Homo sapiens: one gene and its partners. The protein of the gene in region 4 purifies or fractionates together with the protein of the main gene of each other region. This does not show direct contact. Each region holds a gene or a part of one and is shown on either strand. Other genes may lie near its edges.

Region 1 (3,284 bases), on a different chromosome or scaffold from region 4:
ATTTTTAGTAGAGATGGGGTTTCACCATGTTGGCCAGGCTAGTCTCAAACTCCTGACATCTGGTGATCCACCCACCTCGGCCTCCCGAAGTGCTGGGATTACAGGCATGAGCCACCGTGAGTGATCTTCTTTATTTTCTTAATAAACTTGTTTTCACTTTACTCTGTGGACTGGCCCCAAATTCTTTCTTAGGCAAGATCCAAGAACCCTTTGTTGGGGTCTGGATCTGGATCCTTTTCCAGTAACACGAGGTTGCATAATAAAGAATTTGGCTGGCCTTTGTCCCCAGTTCCTGGGAGTTCTAGCCCCTTGGAATTGATGAGTGATTCACTCCTGTAATCCTAGCACTTTGGGAGGCCAAGGTGGGAGGATCACTTGAGTCCAGCAGTTTGAGAGCAGCCTGGGCAACAAAGTGAGATACTGAAGCGACATCGTTTGGGGTAATACCCAAGGTTCATTGCTTCATGCCAAGGAAATCAAGAACTTGAGCACACACGGAGTAAGGTTAAGAGCAGAGGTTTAATAGGCAAAAGAGAAAGGAGGCTTGGGTGCAGTGACTCACGCCTGTAATCCCAGCACTTTGAGAGGCCAAGGCAGGTGGATCACCTGAGGTCAGGAGTTCGAGACCAGCCTGGCCAACATGGTGAAACCCCGTCTCTACTAAAAATACAAAAAATTAGCCAGGCGTGGTGGCAGGCGCCTGTAATCCCAGCTACTTGGGAGGCTGAGGCAGGAGAAGCGCTTGAACCCAGAAGGCAGAGGTTGCAGTGAGCCAAGATCACGCCACTGCACTCCAGCCTGGGAGACAACAGCCAAACTCCATCTCAAAAAACAAAACAAAAACAAAAAAACCTTCAAAGGTAGTATCACAATGTGAATAAACTGAGAATGTGGAAGTCTCCACATTTCACATACACCATCCATAAAGAAGTATAAAACTCAACACATGAATAGCAGACGATGCTATCAGCAGATAATAGCACTTTTATTAGCAGTACTCAGCAGGAAAAGAAAAAGCAGTTCCTGGTTGTTATTTCTGTTTTCTCTGTTTCTTAGGGCGTCCACTTTTCTTCTGTCCTTTCTTCTTCGTTTTAAGGAGAACAGCTTTTTCTCCAATAAATAAGCTTTTAGGATGTCCTTCTGCAGTTTTGGAAGTAAAATTAAGTCCCTGCTTAGGTTTACTGACATTCTTCAATCGTGGATTTGAATTTTGTTGTTTAAATTTTTCTTTATTAACAGAACGCATGACTCTGAGTTTTCTCCCCATGAGTTCAGAATTATTTAATTTCAGAGCAAGATGAACAGAATCTGTATTCTGCAAAAGAAAACACAATACATTAATTGCTACCAGAAACCCATCTGCAAAGAAACTAGTGAAAGTGTCACTTTAACAGATGAGAACGACTTTCAAGCTTGCACAGATAAGCCCCATCCAATCCCAGGTGTATCAGCTGCTGCACTCGAAGTCTCCTCATCACCATGCTCGTCACCAGTGTTTCCTCAGAAAGCACTCAAGCTGCCTTGTGAAATGTTCAGCTAAGTCACAATGCTACAGGCTTCGTGGTTTTTTTTTTTCATTGTAAAATGAGGTTCTAGACTAGATTAGTCATATGCAATATTGGCTTTTTTTCTTTTTTCTTTTTTTGAGACGGAATCTCGCTCTGTTGCCAGGCTGGAGTGCAGTGGCACGATCTCGGCTCACTGTGACCTCTACCTCCTGAGTTCAAGCGATTCTCTTGCCTCAACCTCTCAAGTAGCTGGGATTACAGGCGCGGGCCAACATACCCAGCTAATTTTTGTATTTTTAGTAGAGACAGGGTTTCACCACGTTAGCCAGAATGGTCTCGATCTCTTGACCTTGTAATCTGCCCACCTTGCCCTCCCAAAGTGCTGGGATTACAGGCATGAGCCACCGCGCCTGGCCCCCATATGCAATATTTTAAACGAATAAACCTCCTTCGTATAGCCATCTTTCTGTCAAAGCCCCATTGTATTAGCTGACCAGAGGGCAGGGAACGCTCCATTACGAGATGTTGGACTAGACACCCTCTAGGGTTCCATTTAGATCCAAAATTCTGTTATACTTCTGTTCCAATATAGAGCCATTAATGCTAACAACCCTGAATATCCATGAGATGTTTGTTAAAGGACTTTAGAAGCTTATCAAGTAATAGAAGAAAGGGAGCAGACAAGCAGAAAGGTAACTACAATACAGTAACAATGGCAACAAACGCTGTGACAATCTTTCTAAAAAAGCTACCAGGCAATTCTCATCAAGAGTCTTCAAAATGGTAACACATCTTAACCTAGTATATCCTAATGGGGATCTATCTTAAGTAATCTACAATCCAAACTTTTGGGGAAAAAAACATAACCAGGCCAGGCGGGGTAGCTCACACCTATAATCCTAGCACTCTGGGAGGCCAAGGCGGATAGATCACTTGAGCTCAGAAGTTGGAGACCAGCCTGAGAAACATGGTGAATCCTGTCTCTACAAAAAAATACAAGAATTAGCCAGACATGTGGCACACACCTGTAGTCCTAGCTACTCAGGAAGCTGAGATGGGAGGATCGCTAGAGCCTGGGAGGCAGAGGCTGCAGTGAGCTGAGATCGTGCCAAAGCACTCCAGCCTGAGCAACAGAGTGAGACTCTGTCTCAAAAACAAAAAACACATAACCACTGCAATTTCATTATTACAGGGAAAAACAGAGAATTCTACCAAGGTCCAACATGAGAGAAATGACAGTATAAACTCTGTTATATCACTCAATGGAACATGCTTACATAACAGAAAACAACATAAAATAAGATGTAAATATAATTTAAGTTCACAGAGACAAGTTCAACTATAAAAATGGCAGCACAAGGAAAAACTGAAAGGAAATGTAGTAATGGGTTGTTACTGAGAGAAGAAAAATTTATGACATCACATAGTATGTACAGTCAGCTCCCCAAATCCGTGAGTTCAGTATCAGAGGATTCAATCAACTGCAGATAGAAAATACTTGAAAACAACAAATAATATGACAATAAAAAAATTTATTATATATAACAATATACATTCATGCAAATGTGCCATTTTATATAAGGGACTTCAGCATCTGCAGATATATATATACTGTTTGCTATGTGAGAGGGATCCTGGAACCAATACACCGTGGATATCAAGGGATGACAATAGATTATTTTTTTGTTTTGAGATAGGGTCTCACTCTGTCAGTTCGGCTGGAGTGCAGTGGTGCAATCATGGCTCACTACAGCCTTGACCTCCCGTACTTAAGCA
Region 2 (3,500 bases), on a different chromosome or scaffold from region 4:
TGAGAAAGGGCACTGTGTCAACTCTCCTGGGGAGCCAGGAGGAAGCCTCAACCAGTCAGAGATATATTGGGGATGATTTCCATGTCCTATCCCCTGCCTCCAGGGAGGGAGGAACTTGGGACCTCACAAGTCTCTTCCTGGCTCAGATTCTACACAGGGAAGGTTCCAAGAACATTAGAGGGAGAAGCCAGGGAGGAACATAGTTACACCCAAGGTGCCCGGCACTACAGCTCTTTTAACTTTTATGTTCTCCCCTGGAAAGCCCTTCCCCATTTCCCAGCATCATCATCAAAGGACACGACCATCTGCACACCCAGAGAGAACAAGGGGGACCCCACTGTGATGAAACCCATGTTGTTATGACAAGATTGTGTCAAAACAGAGCACACTGCCAGAAATCACATTTCCAGACTACAGAGACTGGATTCCAAACAAAGTTCACGGCCGCCAATACAGCATTAAGGAAACACATCTCAAATAAGGAGGAAAAAAAACAACTACCCCCCAGACAAACCCAAAATAGTACTGAAAGTGTATTCCTGTACACTTATTGGAATGTATTGGAAAGTGTATTCCTATACACTTATTACACTTTTTTTCACCATTGCCAAAAATGTTGTGGTTAAAGCCATTAACCGCAGTGTATTTGGCAACAGTGAAAAGCAAAAAACAACTCAATGGCCATCAACAGGATTTGATTTTGGGTTCTATATATGGTGGAATACAATGCATCTGTTAATAAGAATGAATTCAAGTAGAAAAGGCACATTTGGTTTCAAAAACACACACCTAGTTACATTGCATTTCCATTTCTTTGTAACCTAATTAACCTTATTCCAGCTCCTCGGATTTGGATACTAGAGTTGAATATCACCTTAGAAAGTCACCTGGGCAATGTAACTATGCATCAACCTGGGGGCTCCTAGGAAAGGAACCATTTCTCCTTTTGCCTGTTCTCTCCTGGTACACACAAGGCTGGGCGCTTACATGGGCTGGGGGACAGCCATGCAGAGAACAGACCATAACCCAGGAAGGCTTTGTTATTATGTATTCCTGTGGTTTTGATGATCCTTAAAAAGAACTTCAGGCAGCAACCCAAGTTTGAGCTTCTATCTTAACCAGCACTCTCTCTGCACATGGCTCTGCAGCCCACCCTACTCCCTGCCCTTCACCACTTACTGTTCAAGCTATTCGAGGCCTCTGAAAAGACAGTCCACGCTACACCTTTCTTCCTCCAAGTAATACCATTGCCAAACCTCCTGAGAACACAAAACCCGACCTTAAGCACCCACCCCCGCCCTGACAAGCAGGCTTTCTGGTCTGCCCTCCTTGTCACACTCCCGCCAGGAAAGTCATCCCACAGCCTGTCTTGCTCTACGGCCTCCAACACCTGCTCCCACCCAGATCCTGTCAGCACCTAGAATTTTACCACTTTTAATATCTGAAATCCCAAAACAAAACTCCCTAAACACAATCTCTTGTCCTACACAGTACATGTATCTATTTCCACTAGATCTGATCTTTAAGCCTGTTAAAGTTTCTCATCCCTTGACCTGCTTTGTCCAGGCTGGTGAGCCCCTGTGACAATCCTCAGTGAGGAATGTACTTCCCAATGCTCCAGCACCCACCCTCCAACTGTCCTCCTGTAGGACCCACCCACCTTGCCAACCTGCATCCAACCTTGGATGAAATTGGTCCTCCCACGTTCTCTACTCCTCCCTCTAGGCTGCCAACTGCCACTGGATATAGCCACATGGCCATGCAGCTGGCACTGTGTTAACATTACACCTTCAGCAAGGACCTTACTGCTGGAACACAGCCTTTTTCTTATCTTCAGTTATGATGCTCCCCTGTGAAGGCACATCTTTACCATCCTTGTCACACTCTCTTATCCTACCCCGCCCATCCCCTTACCCTCAATCCCATCCTAACTCGGTAACAACTGAAAACTCATCCCAACCCCCTTCCACTCACCTCCACACAGCTCTACCTGGAGCCACCCTTACCGTATGCCTGTGGCCTTGAATCCATCCCCTCTCAAGTAAGAATAAAAAGAATAGTAGTAACCATTTACCCAATGCTACTTACACACCAGTGCCTCCTACTGTGCAACTACGATCTCATTTTACCTTCATGACAGTCTCGCACAGCAGTTATAACAGGACTAAAGATATACGGGCAACCAAGGCTTACGGCCAAATGCTTCCATTGGTAAGTGGCGCAGCCGGCGTCGGCACCCACGTCTTTCTGACTCCAGCACCTGGGCTTTTAATCAGCTCATTACTTTGCTTCATCTACATTAACAACCTACAAAAACACTCAAATCCTTACCAATCTTTTTGTAAAAGGGAGGGAGTCTCCCTGACTCTCGCTTCATCAAGTTACTCCCTCATCCTTCCTTCTCCTTCTCTTTCCTGTCAAGGTTCTGTAAAGAGTGGTCCCCACAAGCCGCTGTTTCCCTCCCCTTCACTCCACAACCCAGAATTAGTCCCTTGGGATAGGGATCCAGCACTCTTCCCCAGGGCATCAGTGACAGCCTGCTGCTGAGTCCCTCAGCTTTTCCCCCACCCCAATGCTAACTCCTCAGGGCCTTTTAAAGTGCTGACCTGAGCTTCCAGGAAGCTATGTTTTGTTTATTCTCTTCCCCACTCTTACTTCCCTCCTTACTTAACTCTTGCTTTCAAGTTTTGGTGGCCTCACAGGGTTCCACCCTCCTTTCTTTGCGTTCTGCATAGTATCTGATTCCAGCCACCTTCAGCTCTTCACTGGCCCCTGCCTGTCTTCATGCCCCATTCTACCATCAAATGCCATAGACCAACCTGAAATCTGGCCACACTTCATTACTTGCCACTCCCTAGAACCACTGTGCACTGCCACCTCTGCTCAGGCCCACTTTTCTGCCTGAAGCCCTCCTCCTTTCTTGCTCTACTTTGCAATCCTCTGTTCTTCAAGGCTCCTTTCTATAGGCAAAAGTAAAAATTAAATGCCTGTACTTTAGAGTCACACAGACCAGGTTCAAATCCTAGCTCTGTCATTATTAGCAGTGTGACATTATTAAGAAATTCCTTAAGCTTTTGAAGCTTCAGTTTCCCCATCTGCAAAAAAGGATGTAAGTGAACTCAAGGGTCAATGTGAGGCTTAAAAGCATGTAAAGTGACTACTGAAGTAGATGCAGAGTAAATACTTAATAGTAGATATCATTCATTATGATTACTCCAGCCTCCCTAGGTCCTCCAGACAAAATTGACCACTGTCTACTCCAGGCCCCCACCCCACTGCACATATCATTTTGCATGTTATATCAGAACTGTGTGTTTTCATATTTGGTTCCTTCACCGAATGATGACGTCTTCTGAGGGAGGAACTGCAGTATATTCATGGCCCCCAAACCAAAGCCCTTGAGAGAGGATCACATACATCAGAGCCATTTGCCTAAATGTTAACCGGAAAATTAAAAAAAAAAAAAAAAAAAGAATGACTCAATCAATCTAGTCATGGTG
Region 3 (3,500 bases), on a different chromosome or scaffold from region 4:
TGCCTAAATTCATTATTTTTGTTTCTAGTAAAAGGACCACCCCTATCTGTTAAACATGAAGCCCAGAAATATATTCAAGAAAAACAACTGCAAGACTGATATTCAGCACTCTTCAACAGCTCAGCCCCATCTTATCTCTCCAGTCTTTTCATGCTCTATTACTGTGTAATACCAGACTATTACAGAACTTTGGTGTTTTGGACCTCCCCTAAAACATTTAAATTTCCACTTCCAGGCCTTTTCATAGTCTTCCAGACCTAAAATGCTCACCCTTCACTCTCTGCTAGTCCAGTTCTTTTAATGCTTGCCTTAACCTTCCCTGAGGTTTTCTAATTTCCCTAGCCAGAAACAATCTTTTGAACTCTTGTGGAATTTTTAAAACTACTTTTTTTACCATTTTAAATAAGTGGCACACATGTTATTAATTAGATATGCCCAGTATGTAACTACTTGTGTTCAGATGTAAGGACCCTAATTTAATGTAAGCTTTTTGAGGGCAGGGATTGCCTCATATATCTTACTGTCTGTTTGGTTTCTAACTTAGTGCCTTAAGAGCTTGTTAATGTGTCTTTCCACGACTAGACTGTGAACTTTTTGGGAGCAGGGACCACAGTTTAATGGCATTTGTGATGGCAGTGTCAGGCATCTAGAAGGTACTCAGTAAATGTTTATTGGATAAGCAGATTAACTTGTATGAGAAAGGTTGTTCATAAGTGTATGGATTTTTATAAAGGGCTGTTTAACTATTATTTAAAAAATGACCCCGGGTGTTTGACTTTTTCCTAATTGATATAATCCGTATCCATTTTTATATATTCTGCTAGATCCTTTTCTACTACAATATGCTCTTTAAGTGTTCTTTTTTCTCGTAATAAAATCAATCCATCAGTAAATGATTGCTTATAAGTGTCAGTTTTCTGTATTAGCCCAGATGCCCCAAAACTCCTATTAAAGGAAAAAAAAAGGTAATTTAAAATGTTTTTTTTCTAGACTTATTGCCCTTTTATTTTATTTTATTTTATTTTATTTTGAGATAGAGTCTTGCTCTATTGCCCAGACTGGAGTGCAGTGGTGCGATCTTGGTTCACTGCAACCTCCACCTCCTGGGTTCAAGTGATTCTCCTGCCTCAGCCTCCCTAGTAGCTGGGATTACAGGTGCCCGCCACCATGCCTGGCTAATTTTTTTTGGTATTTTTAGTTGAGACAGGGTTTCACCATATTGGCCAGGCTGGTCTCAAACTCCTGACTTCAAGTGATCCACTCACCTCCGCCTCCCAAAGCGCTGCGATTACAGGTGTGAGCCAGCGCCCGGCCTATTGCCCTTTTTTATAGCTTTGGACATTTGACTTTTTTTTTCTTTTAATAGTAATTTAGAAATTACATTTTACTGTGGCTTTACTTATTTAAAAATGTGTTTGTGGATTACTGTGATAAATTTGGTATTTACTTTCTTTCAGCCTGCTTGAATTTCTTGAAACTGTGCAAAATAAAATATTACAATTATTGCCTTATTCACAATGTACAGGTGAGTTGGTAGATATTAGTCATTTCCTTTGTTATTGGAACTATCTAACAAACTCTGTGAATTAACAAAGAATCCTACATATTACAGAGGGATTTTATCATACAAACTGGCGATCCTACAGGGACTGGCCGTGGAGGAGAGTCTATCTTTGGGTAAGTTGTTTTATTTATTTATTTATTTATTTATTTATTTATTTATTTACTTTTAACCTCTGGAAGGGCAGAACAAATTCTTTTATTCTTAAATGAGGAAAAATATAATTGCTCATGCTTCAATCTGCATTTTAAAATATGGTTTAAATTTAGATTTTTTCCCCCAAGTTCCCTAAAAAAAAAAAAGTAATATTTTGAATTCTGTTGGCATTTCTGTAAAGAAATAATTGATAACCCTGTATGTTACTAGTACTTCTGTATTTCATTTTGAGAGTACTTACATTTATAACCTTATATGTTTTTTCAGCCAACTGTATGGTGATCAAGCAAGCTTTTTTGAGGCAGAAAAAGTCCCAAGAATTAAGCACAAGAAGAAAGGCACAGTGTCCATGGTGAATAATGGCAGTGATCAACATGGATCTCAGGTTAGGAAATGAGTAAGAATATGAGATTTGCTTAGAAATGAAGGACTGGAAGGAGCCCACAGAGTTATTTTTTAAACTATCCAGTAAGGCTTAGAGGGTTTCAATCAGAAATATGTGTTAGGGGAAAAAATGCACTTTTTCTATATTAAAAAATATTATTTTCTTCTTTTAAATGTAAAGCATTCCTATTGTGAAGAATTGAGAAAATACAGAAAAGTACAAAGAAAAACATTACCTACAACTCCACCATCCGTGATTATCACTGTTCACATTTGTGGCTCATTTTTCAGTATTTCTTTTTATTTAATTAATTAATTTATTTTTATGAGATGTAGTCTCACTCTGTCTCCCAGACTGGAGTGCGATGGCACAATCCTCGGCTCACTGCAACCTCTCCCTCCCGGGTTCAAGCAATTCTCCTGCCTCGGCCTTCCGAATAGCTGGGATTACATGCGCCTGCCACAACACCTGGCTAATTTTTATATTTTTAGTAGAGACGGGGTTTCACCATGTTGGCCACGATGGTCTCAATCACGTGACCTCATGATCCGCCTGCCTTGGCCTCCCAAAGTGCTGGGATTACAGGCGTGAGCCACCGCGCCTGGCCGTTTTTCAGTATTTCTTACTTTTTTAAAAACATTACGCAGAGTACCTTCTATTCATTGTCTTGTTTAATTCTCCCAATGACCCTGTTAATTCTCCCAATGACCTACTTGTTAGAGTAGGTACTTCTGTTTTCTACTATATACACATGAAGTTGAGTCATGGCTTGTCTAAGTATTTTGTTTTATTTTATTTTATTTTATTTATTTAGAGACAGAGTCTTGCTCTGTCAGCCAGGCTGGAGTGCAGTGGTGTGATCTCGGCTCACTGCAACCTCCGCCTCTCAGGTTCAAGCGATTCTCCTGCCTCAGCCTCCCGAGTAGCGGGATTACAGATGCCCACCACCACGCTCGGCTACTTTCTGTATTTTTCGTAGAGACAGGGTTTTGCCATGTTGGCCAGGCTGGTCTCAAACTCTTGACCCCAGGTGATCCACCTGCCTTGGCCTCCCAAAGTGCTGGGATTACAGGTGTGAGCCACCGTGGCCGACCAAAAAATACTTTATTACTAACAAGTGCTTCTGATCATCTGAGCCTTCAGTAAATCATAATCTTTTTGCTGGTGAAGGGTCTTGCCTTGATGTTGATGGCCGTTGACTAATCTGGGTGGTGATTGCTGAAGGTTGGGGTGACTGTGGCAGCTTCTTAAAATAAGACAACTGACTGGCGTGGTAGCATACATCTGTAATCCCAGTACTTTGCGGGGGCAAGGCAGGCAGATGGGTTGAGCTCAGGATTTCGAGACCAGCCCAGGAAACATGGTGAAAACCCCATCTCCACAAAAAAATACAAAAAT
Region 4 (3,500 bases):
AATGAGAGCTTCAAGTTTCTTTCTGTCAAGTTCACTCCACCAGAAAAATGACTCTATCACTTTACACTTGACAATGTTAGAAATTATTTAAAAGCCAACCCAACTGTTTTTAAGTTAACATTTTCATTGGGAATGATTAGTGTCTCACACACTTTTCTATATGTTTGAATTCCAAAATGCTTACAGTAGACACTTCTTTATGAAATGAATAAATATACATAGACTAAAATAGAACTCAGCTTTAAAACAAGTTTACCTGTGTCTATGTTACACATTCCAGAAAGCGCCTTTAGTATTTCTTCCTCTTTGCCTTTCAACTCCAAACAACAGTAATAGGATAAATCCTGCACAAAGCGGGAGACACAATTAAGTACTTAGGAATTTACACAGGCAAAACTGCTAAGAAGCCAAAAGCCGTATCACAAAACCTTTAGAGGCCTAAGACACAAAACAAATTGCTAAAGCTATGTTCTCATAAGTCAAAATCTAAACCTTCTCCTGCCCGATGGTTTAGTGGAAAAAATATCTAAACCTGTCCATTCCTGTCACCTTAACAAATATTTTTAAACCAACCCGAACCAAAATAAAAATGAATCTCCATTTAAAATGTAAGTTACGGTATCCTACTTTTTAGGTAATCTATGTTTTATCCCATATTCATAGACAGGTTCTACGGAGGGTACATAACTGTTGCCTCTAAGTAGAGAACCATTCACCCCCAAAGTCTACCTAAGGTAAGAAACCAGAGTAAAATAAGCAAAACAGTAATGAATTCTGCAAAATTATGCTCAGGTTGCTCAATTTGGTTAGCTAATTCAGGACCTCAAGATTACTTAACACTAAGCCTAGAGATACAATATTGCAATTAATCCATCCCATATTTCTCCCATACTCAGTCTTGACCATGATATGCAACTTTAAGCACAGTACAAAGAAAGTAAAAGTAATAACATACAATTTCAAGTAAGATGAAGAGAGATCAGACTAAGCTAATGAAATCAATGTTAAAAGTTTCAATAGTTATAGTATCCATAATAATAATTATAATAATAATTCTAACAGTTTGTTTTGTTTTTGAGACAGGGTCTCACTCTGTTGCCAGTGCTAGAGTACAGAGGCGCAATCACAGCTCACAGAAGTCTCAACTTCCTGGGCTCAAGCAATCCTCCTGCCTCAGCCTCCCAGGTAGCTGGGACTACAGGCACGAGCCACCACACCCAGCTTTTTTTTTTTTTTTTTTTTTGCAGAGACAGAGTCTCACTATGTTGCCCAGACTGGTCTTGAACCCCAGAGCTCAAGCAATCCTCCTGCCTCAGCCTCCCAGGTAGCTGGGACTACAGGCACGAGCCACCACACCCAGATTTTTTTTTTTTTTTTTTTTTTTTTGCAGAGACAGAGTCTCACTATGTTGCCCAGACTGGTCTTGAACCCCAGGGCTCAAGCAATCCTCCTGCCTCAGCCTCCCAAAATGCTGTGATTCTAAGCATGAGCTGCCATGCCTGGCCTATAATAGTTAATAGTCATTGAAGGGTTACTGAGTGCCAGCAATGAGTTAACTCCTTACATGAACAGTCATTTAGTCTTCCTGACAACCAGATGTACCTAGTATGGTTATCTTATCTGACAGACAAGGACACTGTGACACAGAGATTGTTACTTGAACAAAGACACAGTCATTAAGTGGAGAAGCCAGCATTCTAATCAGGCTCAGTGATCTGCCAAACCAACCCTTCTGCTATAGCATCTTTAAGCAATTTCAGTGCACTCAGTAACTAGAACTAAAAGGGAAATTATAGCTATGATTCTGACAACGCATGTCAATCAATATGATCACTCACACAAAGAAATCTTCCCATCCAGTGACCAGCTCTCAGCTGTCAGTGGCCAGAGGAACCTCACCCAAACAAGTGACAGCAGAGAATAATGGTTCAGAGTGTGGAACCCTGGAGTCAGGCAACTGGGCTCAAATCTGAACCTCAACACTCATTGGCCATACAATCATGGGTAAACTACCTAACCTCTCTGTACCTCAGTTTCCCCATCTGTAAAATGGAAATAATGGTAACTCCTTACTTCGTACTATTCTGAGGATTAAATGAGTAAACACATGCAAACCATTTAAAACAGGGTAGGGCATATATTAAGCACTCACTAATATTTGTTATTATTAGCTATTAGTTTTATTACTTAGGGCTGATCAAATTTTAGAGAAAATATCTGATAACTTCAGCAAAAATTATGCCCAAAATGAAAAGTAACTCATTGGCAGAGGACAGTGGAAAAAGCACAAGCCAGGGGAATCAGCCACCCAAGTGCTATGTAGGCCACCAACAAGCTGTGTGAGCCCAGGCAAGTCACTTCATCTCTCCAGAACCCAGCTTCCTCAATGTGAATGAGGAACTTGACTATTATCTATGATTTCTGCTGCTGAGTTCTCAAATCAAAGACTCCTAAAAGGTCCTCTTATTCACTTCACACTCATTAGAATGACTGTGATCAAATAAATAAATAAAGTAACAAGTACTGAAAAGGATGAGGAGAAATTGGAACCCTTGTGTATTGCTGGTGGGAATGTAAAATGATACAGTTGCTATGGAAAATGGTAAGGCAGTACCTCAAAAAATTAAACATAAAATTAACATAGAATTATCATATGATCCAGCAATTACACTTCTGGGGATATATTCAAGAGGACTGAAAGCAGGGACTGTAACGATATTTGCATATCCATGTTCACAGCAGCATTATTTACAATAGCCAAAAGGTGGAAGTAAGCCAAATGTCCACTGACAGATAAATGAATAATCAAGATACGGTATATACCTACAATGGAATACATCTTCAGCCTTAAAAGGGAAGGGAATTCTGACACATGCTACAACACGGATGAATTTTAAGACATTATGCTAAATGAAATAAGCCAGTCACAAAAAGACAAATATTGTATGATTTCACCCCTATGAAGCACCTATAGGATCAAATTATTGGATAGACAATAGAATGGTGGCTGCCAGGGGCTGAAGGAATGGGAGTTAGTGTTTAATGAGTCGAGAGTTTCAGTTTGGAAGGATAAAAAAGTTCTGGAGATGGATGGTGGTACTGATTACACAACGTAAACGTACTTAATGCCACAGAACTATACACTTAAAATGGTCAAATGGTTTTGTTATGTATATTTGACCACAATTTTTTAAAAAGATTCTTGTATTGCTTATTCTACCACATTACTCTCAAGGGGTATCAAAGGACACCAATAGTAATGGCTTTCAAAATTTGGCCAAGGCCATTCTGCCACTGAAAGATAGGCCCTTCTGCAAAGAACAAATGTCTAAGTATGTATTGGAAGAAATAGAAAGCAACTGAATTAGCTTCTGAGAGGAGGGAGCAATCAGATAAATACTATTAAGAGGCTCTAACATAATCTGTCCTCTCAAAGCGTTTAAAATTTAAAACATCCTTCCCAGCATCCCACTGACCCATAAACACCTAGACCAGCATTC
Region 5 (3,500 bases), on a different chromosome or scaffold from region 4:
CCCCTTGTCTATATATACTTCATAGGTTTTGTTCAACTGCTATTATACACAGCACTTAGTTGTTTGCTTAGTTTTAAGGTTTTTGTTTGTCTGTTTGTTTTTTTGGGAGACAGAGTTTCACTCTGCCTCCCAGGCTGGAGTGCAGTGGTACAATCTTAGCTCACTGCAACCTCTGCCTCCATGGTTCAAGTGATTATCCTGTCTCAGCCTCCCGAGTAGCTGGGATTACAGGCGTGTGCCACCAGGCTCAGCTAATTTTTTGTATTTTTAGTAGAGATGGGGTTTCGTTATGTTAGGCAGGCTGGTCTTGTACTCCCGACCTCAATCAATCCAACCACCTTGGCCTCCCGAAGTGCTGGGATTACAGGTGTGAGCCACGGCACCCAGGCTGCTTAGTATTAAACTTGAATTACACTACATCAATCTCTACTTAGACCCTTAACTCCAGATAGAAACTGTCTTTACTCATTTTGGACTTCCTTCTCTAACAGTGAGAATGACTAAGGTATGTATTTAGTAAGTACTAATTTACCTGAACTTCATCTCCTGCTGTCTTTCGGAATCCCATAAGGGGATTCCTTCAATCAAGGAATCAACGTAATTCCAGTGTGATGAAATTTAGTAAGAATCTTTACAAGCAAGAAAATTTCAGCATCTGACGTTTTTAAACTAATCTATAAGCTATCTTTACAAGAGGTGTTCCCAAGCAACAAAAAGGATGGGCTCAATTTTAATCTCATTTTTCCTAGTGTATACAATGTATAACAAGGAGCTAATAAGCCATAAGGATGAGAAGGCAAAGAAAGGATAGTGGAAAGACATTTACGTTCAGGTGGATTTTAAGAATCACACAATCTCCTAGCAGGAAAACTTTCAATGGTTTACTGAAAGCTTGCTGAGAAGGTCAGGTGGTATATGATGTGCTAGGCATTCATACATGAAAGATACAGTCCCTGTTCTCAAGGAGTAGACAGTGCAGTCTGAGGCAGCTGAAAACAACATGATGCGTTCTAACAGACGTACTATACAGAGTGCATTCACTGGTGGTCCATGAGTGGGAGCAAAGGCATAGAAGTGTTCTGAGAGATGACATGTTAAATTTTGAAACCTCAAGAGGCATTAGATCAAAGAGGCATTAAAGAAGGGCATTTCAGATGGAAGGATCTGTTAAGTGTTACCACAGAGAACAAGAAATAGTTCAGTGCAGCTAGAGTTCAGTAGCACATTTGGGAAATTTGCAGGACACATGTTCAGAAAGACAGGTAGGGCCAAGATGAACAGCTTAGAAGGCTATGCTAACGACGTACCATACAAAACTGTATTCTGCCAGCTACAAAGAATCGTTAATTTTACACAGAAGGGAAATTTTCAGATCAGTGTTTTTGAAAGACAGAATGAGAGATACTCATGGTAGAGGCAAGGAAAGTAGAAGGCTGTTGCAGCAACGCAGGTATAAAGCGACAAAATTCTGAACTAAGAAAGCACCTGTGGGAAAGGAGAAACGGGGGATGGATCTGAGTTATTTATTTAGATATCTGAGGAAAGATCAATTAGGATTGTGTGACCAGTAATTGGTGTGGAAGCTAAGGAAGAAGAGTCTAGAATAACTTCAGAAGTTTCTGGCTTTAAAGACTGGGTGAACTGTGGAGCCACTAATGGAGATGGAAACCTAAAAGAGCCAGGTTTGCAAAATTAGGCAAAAGGTGAGTTCAGTATCTATGAGAGAGCTGAGTAGAGATGCCAAGCAGGGGCAGTAACTGCAGAGAGGGGTCCGGAGTGAGCTATAGATTTGATGTAAGCCATTTGCATTTGAGGTTACTGATGTAAATAAGCTAGCAGAGAGACCATGCAGAGTGAGAAAAGAAGTAAGACAATTCTTTCTTTTCTCCCCAAGACGGAGTCTTGCTCTGTCGCCCAGAGCTGGAGGGCAATGGCATGATCTTGGCTCACTGCAACCTCCGCCTCCTGAGTTCAAGCAATTCTCCTGCCTCAGCCTCCCGAGTAGCTGGGATTACAAGCACGCACCACCGTGCCCAGCTAATTTTTGTATTTTTAGTAGAGACAGGTTTCACCATGTTGGCCAGGCTGGTCTCAAACTCCTGACCTCGTGATCCACTGCGCCCAGCTGGTAAGACAATTCTTTTTTTATTTTTATTTTTTGAGACGGAGTCTCACTCTGTCGCCCAGGCTGGAGTGCAGTGGCACAATCTCGGCTCACTGCAAGCTCTGCCTCCCGGGTTCACACCATTCTCCTGCCTCAGCCTCCCCAGTAGCTGGGACTACAGGCACCTGCCACCAGGCCCGGCTAATTTTTTGTATTTTTAGTAGAGACGGGGTTTCACCATGTTAGCCAGGATGGTCTCGATCTCCTGGCCTCGTGATCCACCTGCCTCGGCCTCCCAAAGTGCTAGGATTACAGGCGTGAGCCACCACATCCGGCCCAGTAAGACAATTCTTAACATATATCACTATTTAGGAATGGGCAGAAAAAGAGAAGCTTACATGGAAACTTCAGATGGAACAGGGATTGGGGAAGGGAAAGAAAGAAGAGGGGGAAAGAAGGAAGGGGAGACAAGGAGGAACACGGGTGAGGAGAAAGAAGCTCTATAGGCAGAAAACTAAAGAGAAGTTAGGTAAGTTAAGAACTAAAATGTGCCAGGCACGGTGGCTCACGCCTGTAATCCCAGCACTTTGGGAGGCCAAGGCAGGCGGATCACAAGGTCAGGAGATCAAGACCATCCTGGCTAACACGGTGAAACCCCATCTCTACTAAAAATACAAAAAATTAGCCGGACGTGGTGGCGGGCACCTGTAGTTCCGGCTACTCAGGAGGCTGAGGCAGGAGAAAGGCATGAACCTGGGAGGTAGAGCTTGCGGTGAGCCAAGATCCGGCTACTACACTCCAGCCTGGGCGAGAGTGCGAGACTCTGTCTCAAAAAAACAAAACAAAAAGAACTAAAATTCTTCTGTTGTATAGGCAACCAGGAGTCATCAGTGAAAGCAGTTTCAATGGAGCAGTAGGGACAGGGTTGAGGAGTACCTGGCAAGTAAGTAGTAGAAGATGAAGACTAGGTCAAGAGGAGTCAAGAGTACTTTGTAGGCTGTTTATCAATGATAGGAAGGAGAAAGTGAAGCATTACCTACAGAAATTTTATTTTTTAAAGAAACATAGGCATGTTTATATGCTAAAGGGGAAAAACCAGTAAAGTCTGAAAAACTGAAGATGCAAAATGACAGAAAAAAGTCATAGGATTTCCAGAGAAGACCAGACACAATCAAAACTTTTAACAACAGGAGTAACTCACTCTTCCCCCAAAGCTAGAGGGAAGGAGTGAAAAGAACAAACATGACTATGAATCAGCCCTATTAAATAATCAAAAGGTTCATATTACAAAAGCAGCAAATCAACTCCTGCCACAAACAGGCAGGCAGTGAGACCTTGGGCAGGTGAGGGTTGCTTACTGGCTCTCAAGACTTAGCAAGTTGGAAAAGCGATCCTT
Region 6 (3,500 bases), on a different chromosome or scaffold from region 4:
AAATTAAATGTACCCATATAAACTGGCTGTAAACGAAACCAGGTAAGATAAACCACTCAACTTCCACCTATATTCCACACGTAACATGCACAAATGCATGTATGCACATATTCACGGATTTTCTGCAAAACAGAAATAAAACTGGACTTTTCTGAAACTTGAGAAAATACTTGTTAGGAGAATTATAAAACTGATGAGGATGACATCAGTTTTGAAGCATTTTTAATTTGAAGAAAAAGAAAATGTTACCTTTTTTCTTATTCCAGGAGAATAAGCATAAACTGACTGATATACTTCCAAGAAATATAGCCTGAATTCTTATATCGCTGTGTCATTACTAATAATTTTTCACTACAGTAAGTACTGTAAATTTACAGAAAAACAGAAGCATCTAAATGACACACAGAGTTGCTTCTCATTATTCTTGCATTTCCTATTCGTGTATTTGCCTACCTAGTAAAATGTATCTGTAACCCAAAAATCAAGACTTGTAGCACTTTTGTGGCCACTGCACACATACACAAGAGTGGTGAAAAATCTGTGCCACCCAATAGCACACATTCTCAGCTGAGGTGGAACAAGGTGATGCTCTGCCTCATTTATTTCACCTCTCAGACAAGTATCCTTTTCACAGTCTGTTTAGTGCCATGTTTTTCAAGTTTTTATAGTCCCAAAGAGTACTGCCAAAGTGCTGTATAGTGTTCCTAGGCTCAAGAAGGTTGTAATGTGAAATGGCAAAGACATGGAATCAACCTAAATGCCCATCGTTAGTAGACTGGATAAAGAAAACATGGTACGTATATACCATGGAATACTATGCAGCTATAGACAAGAACAAGATCATGTCCCTTCCAGGAATATGGATGGAGCTGGAGGCCATTAACCTTAGCAAACTGACAAAAGAACAGAAAACCAAATCCTGCATGTTCTTACTTATAAGCAGGAACTAAAGGATGAAAACACATGGACACACTGAGGGGAACAACACACATTAGGGCCTATCAGATGGTGGAGGGTAGAAGAGGGAAAGAATCAGGAAAAATAACTAATAGGTATTAGGGTTAATACCTGGGTGATGAAATAATCTGTGCAACAAACCTCCATGACACAAGTTTACCTATATAATAAACGTGCACATGTACCCCTGAACTTAAAAAAAGGAAAGCTACGAAGGCTGTGATGTGTCTTAAAGAGAAAATATGTGTGTTACATAAGTTATGTTCAGGCACTCTTAGCACTGTTGGCCATGAGTGCAATTAAATTAATCGACAGTGTGTGTGTGTATATATACACACACACACACACACACAATTTTTTTTTTTTTTTTGAGACGGAGTCTCTGTCGCCCAGGCTGGAGTGCAGTGGCGCAATCTTGGCTCACTGCAAGCTCCGCCTCCCGGGTTCACGCCATTCTCCTGCCTCAGCCTCCTGAGTAGCTGGGACTATAGGTGCCTGCCACCATGCCCAGCTAATTTTTTGTATTTTTAGTAGAAACGGGGTTTCACCGTGTTAGCCAGGATGGTCTCGATCTCCTAACCTTATGATCCACCCACCTCAGCCTCCCAAAGTGCTGGGATTACAAGCATGAGCCACCATGCCTGGCCAATCGACAGTATACATTAAATGAGATATCTTCAAACAGGAACACAAACAAAATAAGGTTATATATTGATCAACTGACCAACATGTTATTACTGGAAATGTGAACTTAATCCTATATTTCTCTTGGGCAATGCTTCAATACAGTACTCCCCTATCTACAGTTTTAGTTACCCATAGTCAACCTTAGTCTAAAAATATTACATACAATACACTATTCTAAGGGATAAAGACCACATTCATATAACTGTAACTAGGGTATGCTAATATAATTGTTCTATTTTGTTATTATTTTTATTAGTCTCCTGTTATACCTAATTTAAAAACTACACTTTATCATAGGCACGTATGTACAGGAGAAAACACAGTAAGGTTCGTTACTATCCCCAGTTTCAGGCATCCACTGGTCTTAGAAGGTATCTCCCATGGATAAGGTGGGTACTACCGTATTCACTGTTTTGTGGGAACTTTAAAGAACTACCACAAATAATGAGAATCAATCGTACCTGTGTCAAAGAAGAGACTTTCCAGAAGTACTGACTAAACCTCTAAAAATAAAACCAAGTTTTTATCTTCTGTTTGTTCACATGTATTCCATCCATAGTATTCCATGATGTTTATGTACCAGACATGCTGGAGGGACATGTCTTATAATGGGATATGTACATTGCTGTGGGGAGACCTGAGGAAGCCCCTCAAAGAGGTAGTCATTCTCCAAATCAACTAAAATTGATAGGCAACAGGAGGCCTGTGTGAATGCTGATCGGCAAAGGAATTATCACATGAACACAAATACTTATTACATTAAGTCACTGCAGGTAGACAAAAACAAACAACAGTTTCAAATATGAGCCTTTATCAAAAGGCACAAGAGTAACTGAATTTTATGTGCCAATGTGCCATCAGGTATTTTTTTCACACCAGTGATGTCAAGTAACTAGCAAAAGGGTAAAGTAAAAGGAGATATTTAAGCAATTAGTTAAATCTCCTGAACCAAATGTGGGATAGCCAACTAGTACAGAATAGCCACCATAGAATATTTTTTAAAGTATAGTACATGAATCTATGTATCATGCAAACAAAGAGAAAACTCACTATTCCTGCACTTTCATCTAACTACTTGCTTTCATGGACCTAAAGAATAGATCCAGTCTCAGTAGTGTATTAATTATAATTTCCAACTTGTTTGGCATTTTATTTAATTTCCAGAAGATGTCATAACATAAATAAAGCATACCTTTCTTCTTCCTTCCTCCTTCCGATCAAAAGCACATTGCTGTTTGCACTGTTCACAGGTCTGAGGTGGTCCATACTTTTTTTCTGAATTTGTGCAACGCTGACACTTGGTACCAATAAATGCTGCAATTATGTTACAGTACTGACAAGGCTTGGGCTGAAAAACATACACATTTTGAGACTTTTAAAAACATTAAATATTTGCGGCATAGCATATACCCAGTGTTGTAGACATATTTCTGGAATTAAGAAAACTCAGGTAAAAAATTTGTTTTCTGTCAAGTTTGTTGCCCTGTCACATGCAATAACTTTTATACCATATTTCTATGCATTCAACTAGTATTTATTTCTAGTCATGTAACTATTACTCTAAGATCGTGAGAAATAGATTTGTGATTTGCATAGTCTGTTAGATAATACAAAAACTACACATAAAAAAGGTTTTAAAGAACGAAAATAAAGGTACATATGTAGAGAAGTCTCATGAATCAAGAATTTGAGGAAACGTCCTTCTACTAATATCCTAGTTACCTTAATGACCATATCATTTATTTAGAAAATGTTAACTTTTCATCACATATAGGTACAAATCATATAAGGAATATATACTGTGAGTTTTCAACTTTGAAAAAATGAGAACAAGCATATTCAACATAAACTATAAA
Region 7 (3,500 bases), on a different chromosome or scaffold from region 4:
ATTTTATATAGCAGAATGCTAAATATTTTTGAAGGTTTTGTTTTGTTTCTGTTTCTACTCTGTCTCTACTAAAAATACAAAAATTAGCCGGGCATGGTGGCGCACGCCTGTAATCCCAGCTGAAGACATGGGCCTTTTTCTTTCTTTTTTGAACTGAAGTAGCCTGTTTAAAAGCTATGTGTGGGCTTTTTATTGAAAAGTGTGAATTGCTACTAGTTTTATAAGGCAAATAAACAGTTTATAGGGATCAATACCACTGAGTCACATTTTGCATTTCTAAAATCTGTGCTGTTTACTTGGAGAAAACAAAAGAAATGTGCCTACCTCCTCCATCCCACCTTTATTTAGAAACATTTCCAGTGGGCTTGTTTTTTTCAGATTCAGAATTACTGTACCTAACCACTGGGTACCCTTACAGATTTCAAAGCCTGAAGTAAATGTTTATGCTGGCTTTCGTAGTCAGCAAATAATAGCCAAACCCTAATTCACTGCTCTTTTATAGAATCTTGGAATCTCAGGGCTGAACCGTTAGGAGTCAGCAGATCCACTCTTAGCCCTAGTCTCTTCCTCTCAACATGCAAACAGTTCTAATGTCTTTGGAATGTCTGAGCAAATAGAAGATTTGTATGCGATTCTGTCACCAATTCTAGACAGAACATCCTTTGGGATGCCATGTTTTGGCATAAACCAGCAACTTGATATTATGAGATTTGTATCATTTCTCTGCGTGGGCAGTGCCCTAGACTAAAATCTAAAATGGAGTCAATGCCTGATGTCATTAACTATAGGGAAATGGCCTCCAAGTTAGCTATTAGAGTTGTTTAGGAATTATAGCTGGGCGCGATGGCTCACGCCTGTAATCCCACCTCTTTGGGAGGCTGAGGCGGGTGGATCATGAGGTCAGGAGATCGAGACCATCCTGGCTAACACGGTGAAACCCCGTCTCTACTAAAAATACAGAAAATTAGCCAGGCGTGGTGGCAGGCATCTGTAGTCCCAGCTACTCGGGAGGCTGAGGCAGGAGAATGGCGTGAACCCGGGAGGCAGAGCTTGCTGTGAGCGGAGATTGCGCCACTGCACGCCAGCCTGGGTGACAGAGCCAGACTCCATCTCAAAAAAAAAAAAAAAAAAGTTATAGGTAAGCCAAGAAGGAAAGAAATAAATAATCTCAGTTATCATCTAGAAATGATTTATAGTTTTTGTTGCTGTTGTTGTTTTTATTTTGTTTTTGAGACACAGTTTCACTCTGTCGTTCAGGCTGGAGTGCAGTGACGTGATCTTGGCTCACTGCAACCTCCGTCTTCCCAGTTCAAGTAATTCTCGTGCTTCAGCCTTCCAAGTAGCTGGAATTACAGGCGTGTGCCACCATGCCCGGCTAATTTTTGTATTTTTAGTAGAGACAGGGTTTCACCATGTTGACCAGGCTGTTCTTGAACTCCTGACCTCAAGTGATCCACCCGACTTGGCCTCCCAAAGTGTTGGGATTACAGGTGTGAGCCACCGCACCCAGCCGGTTTATAGTTATAGCTAATAGATTTTGGTAGCTTTTTCTATAAAGTATGTGTATGTGTGTGTATTTCATATGAGAGAGGGAATATTATAGGTATTTGTGATGTGAAGCACCTACTCATTGTATTTAATAAATATTTGATGAATTAATTCATTGAACCTTTAATATATTAGAGGTGAAGAATCTTTAGTGAAGATTCTTTGATAGAGTTGACATAGAAATGGGTAATGTTTCATGTAGAAATATCATGTCGGTAATGTTTATTTGCTTTTCTAACCACTGATATTGTTTCTCCTGGTTTTGTGGTTGGCTTGGGATCTGTGTTGTAAGTTTCTTAGAGGCATGTTTTTCATGTCTAGGAGAGTAGATAGGCTATATATTTCCATGGTGTTGGGATAGTATTAATTTTAATTAGAATTTCAGAGGCTTTCTGAATTTTCTTATTTTAAAGTGATGTCTCTTACTTCTTGGCATTGGAATAGATTTCATGTGATCTATGAGTGCATTCATACTGCTTCTGGATATTTTTTCTTCAAAGATTGCAATTGAGCTAATTTCATATTCTCAGTTATCTTTAAAATGGAAACATGTTTTCACTTCACAGATACCTCTCTGAATTTTGCATATTTTCACTCTACCTTATTAGAGCCATAAAGTCAAAAAGTACATAGATTGTCTCCCAAATAATCTGGAATAAATTGAAGGATAAGAACAATCTTTCCTGAGATCTGACCTGTATCTTAAATAAGGTTTTGCTTTAGATAGCCAAGTTGAAATTTTGCATAGATAACTAAGTTCGGCATCATGGGGATCATTTTAGTTCTTTCCAGGTTAGGAGGCATGGAAAGGCTCCCAAAGTGGTTTTGTCACTGTTCATCTATCGGACCTTATTGCCTAGGTCAGGTAGGGTAGTTCATGCATTTAAATCAAATCTTTCTGAAGAGACCAGTTTCCTCTTGCTTTGCTCTTAGGGCCTCACCATCAACCTTCATGAAAGAATTTTCAAATACTTAAAAACTTATGTTACCCTTCAGTTGCCTTTTTCCAGGATAATTGTGGTTTTAAAAAGCTTGTCATATAGTTCTGATTACCAACTCTGAAGTCACCTTTTCCAAGCCCTTGTATTTACGTTTCCAGACCTGCTGATGAGCTTCAGGGCTGGGCCATTATAACAACAGTGCTGAATTCACTCATATTTTTCAGAGTTTCCTACATTCTACTGATATATGTACATATCCCAGTAGCTTGAAGACATAAAATTAAAATGTGATTTACACTCTGCCATAATTCTTTGTTTCTTTCTCTTTTTGTCCAGAAGCTACTTGTTTTTCACCCTAGATTCATTTACCTTGAGGGAGATTATTTGGTTCAGACTCCTGACCTGGGGTGGAGAGTGGGGTTCTTGGGCCTCATGGGTGCATAAACTGCCTGAGACTGTAAGTGAGGTATTGTGTTCCCATGTGCATGCACTCCTGTGTGTGTGCAGCATCTCTGTGTGTGTGTGCACAAGTGGATGAGAGAGACAGGTTAAGGGAGAAAGAGAACTTTAGGAGTGGTTTTTGAAAGGGTTTTGGGAAACAGAAAAGATTGAGAACTGATGTTTCAGTTCTTATTTTCGAGATTAGAAGATGGAAGTTTTAAGAGTATTTTGTTTTTCTCTTTTTTTTTAATTTTTTCACCCTATTGCACTTTTCATCATTTATTCTCCCCTATCTCCCATTGTACTTCTTTCCATTCAATTGAATTCATTTAGTTGACCCCCATTTACCTAACTGTCAAGGTTAAACTGAATTCTGATATAATCCTGGCCACTCATATTCTTACCTGTGAACTTAATGAATGTGCATTTATTTCCTTACAAATTTCTTTGATGGAATATTGATTAGAAGGAATCAGTAACATGTCCACTCTATTTGATGCTGGTTAGACTGCCACATATGCCATTGTGACCTTGGGCAAATTATTTCTCAAAGCCTCGTTTGCTGTAGTA

What was found.
Region 1: the proteins of POP1 (region 4) and RBM34 purify together in Homo sapiens (affinity purification with western blotting; one study listed by BioGRID). This does not show direct contact.
Region 2: the proteins of POP1 (region 4) and RCL1 purify together in Homo sapiens (affinity purification with mass spectrometry, with the first as the bait; one large-scale study listed by BioGRID). This does not show direct contact.
Region 3: the proteins of POP1 (region 4) and PPIL4 purify together in Homo sapiens (affinity purification with mass spectrometry, with the first as the bait; one large-scale study listed by BioGRID). This does not show direct contact.
Region 5: the proteins of POP1 (region 4) and DDX42 purify together in Homo sapiens (affinity purification with mass spectrometry, with the first as the bait; one large-scale study listed by BioGRID). This does not show direct contact.
Region 6: the proteins of POP1 (region 4) and FAM76B purify together in Homo sapiens (affinity purification with mass spectrometry, with the first as the bait; one large-scale study listed by BioGRID). This does not show direct contact.
Region 7: the proteins of POP1 (region 4) and EPB41L2 purify together in Homo sapiens (affinity purification with mass spectrometry, with the first as the bait; one large-scale study listed by BioGRID). This does not show direct contact.

The regions. Positions count from the first base shown.
Region 1 is NC_000001.11:235,130,683-235,133,966, forward strand, and holds the end of RBM34 (RNA-binding protein 34), read right to left. Parts: intron 1,316-3,284; coding exon 1,031-1,315; 3' UTR 501-1,030; downstream 1-500.
Region 2 is NC_000009.12:4,834,444-4,837,943, reverse strand, and holds part of RCL1 (RNA 3'-terminal phosphate cyclase-like protein), read right to left. Parts: intron 1-3,500. UniProt on the Homo sapiens protein: As part of the small subunit (SSU) processome, it plays a role in 40S-ribosomal-subunit biogenesis in the early pre-rRNA processing steps at sites A0, A1 and A2 that are required for proper maturation of the 18S RNA.
Region 3 is NC_000006.12:149,539,544-149,543,043, reverse strand, and holds part of PPIL4 (peptidyl-prolyl cis-trans isomerase-like 4), read left to right. Parts: intron 1-1,457; coding exon 1,458-1,525; intron 1,526-1,612; coding exon 1,613-1,677; intron 1,678-1,984; coding exon 1,985-2,102; intron 2,103-3,500. UniProt on the Homo sapiens protein: PPIases accelerate the folding of proteins. It catalyzes the cis-trans isomerization of proline imidic peptide bonds in oligopeptides.
Region 4 is NC_000008.11:98,130,793-98,134,292, reverse strand, and holds part of POP1 (ribonucleases P/MRP protein subunit POP1), read right to left. Parts: intron 345-3,500; coding exon 257-344; intron 1-256. UniProt on the Homo sapiens protein: Component of ribonuclease P, a ribonucleoprotein complex that generates mature tRNA molecules by cleaving their 5'-ends. Also a component of the MRP ribonuclease complex, which cleaves pre-rRNA sequences.
Region 5 is NC_000017.11:63,780,670-63,784,169, reverse strand, and holds part of DDX42 (ATP-dependent RNA helicase DDX42), read right to left. Parts: intron 1-3,500. UniProt on the Homo sapiens protein: ATP-dependent RNA helicase that binds to partially double-stranded RNAs (dsRNAs) in order to unwind RNA secondary structures. Unwinding is promoted in the presence of single-strand binding proteins.
Region 6 is NC_000011.10:95,783,283-95,786,782, forward strand, and holds part of FAM76B (protein FAM76B), read right to left. Parts: intron 2,993-3,500; coding exon 2,837-2,992; intron 1-2,836. UniProt on the Homo sapiens protein: Negatively regulates the NF-kappa-B-mediated inflammatory pathway by preventing the translocation of HNRNPA2B1 from the nucleus to the cytoplasm.
Region 7 is NC_000006.12:131,056,746-131,060,245, reverse strand, and holds part of EPB41L2 (band 4.1-like protein 2), read left to right. Parts: intron 1-3,500. UniProt on the Homo sapiens protein: Required for dynein-dynactin complex and NUMA1 recruitment at the mitotic cell cortex during anaphase.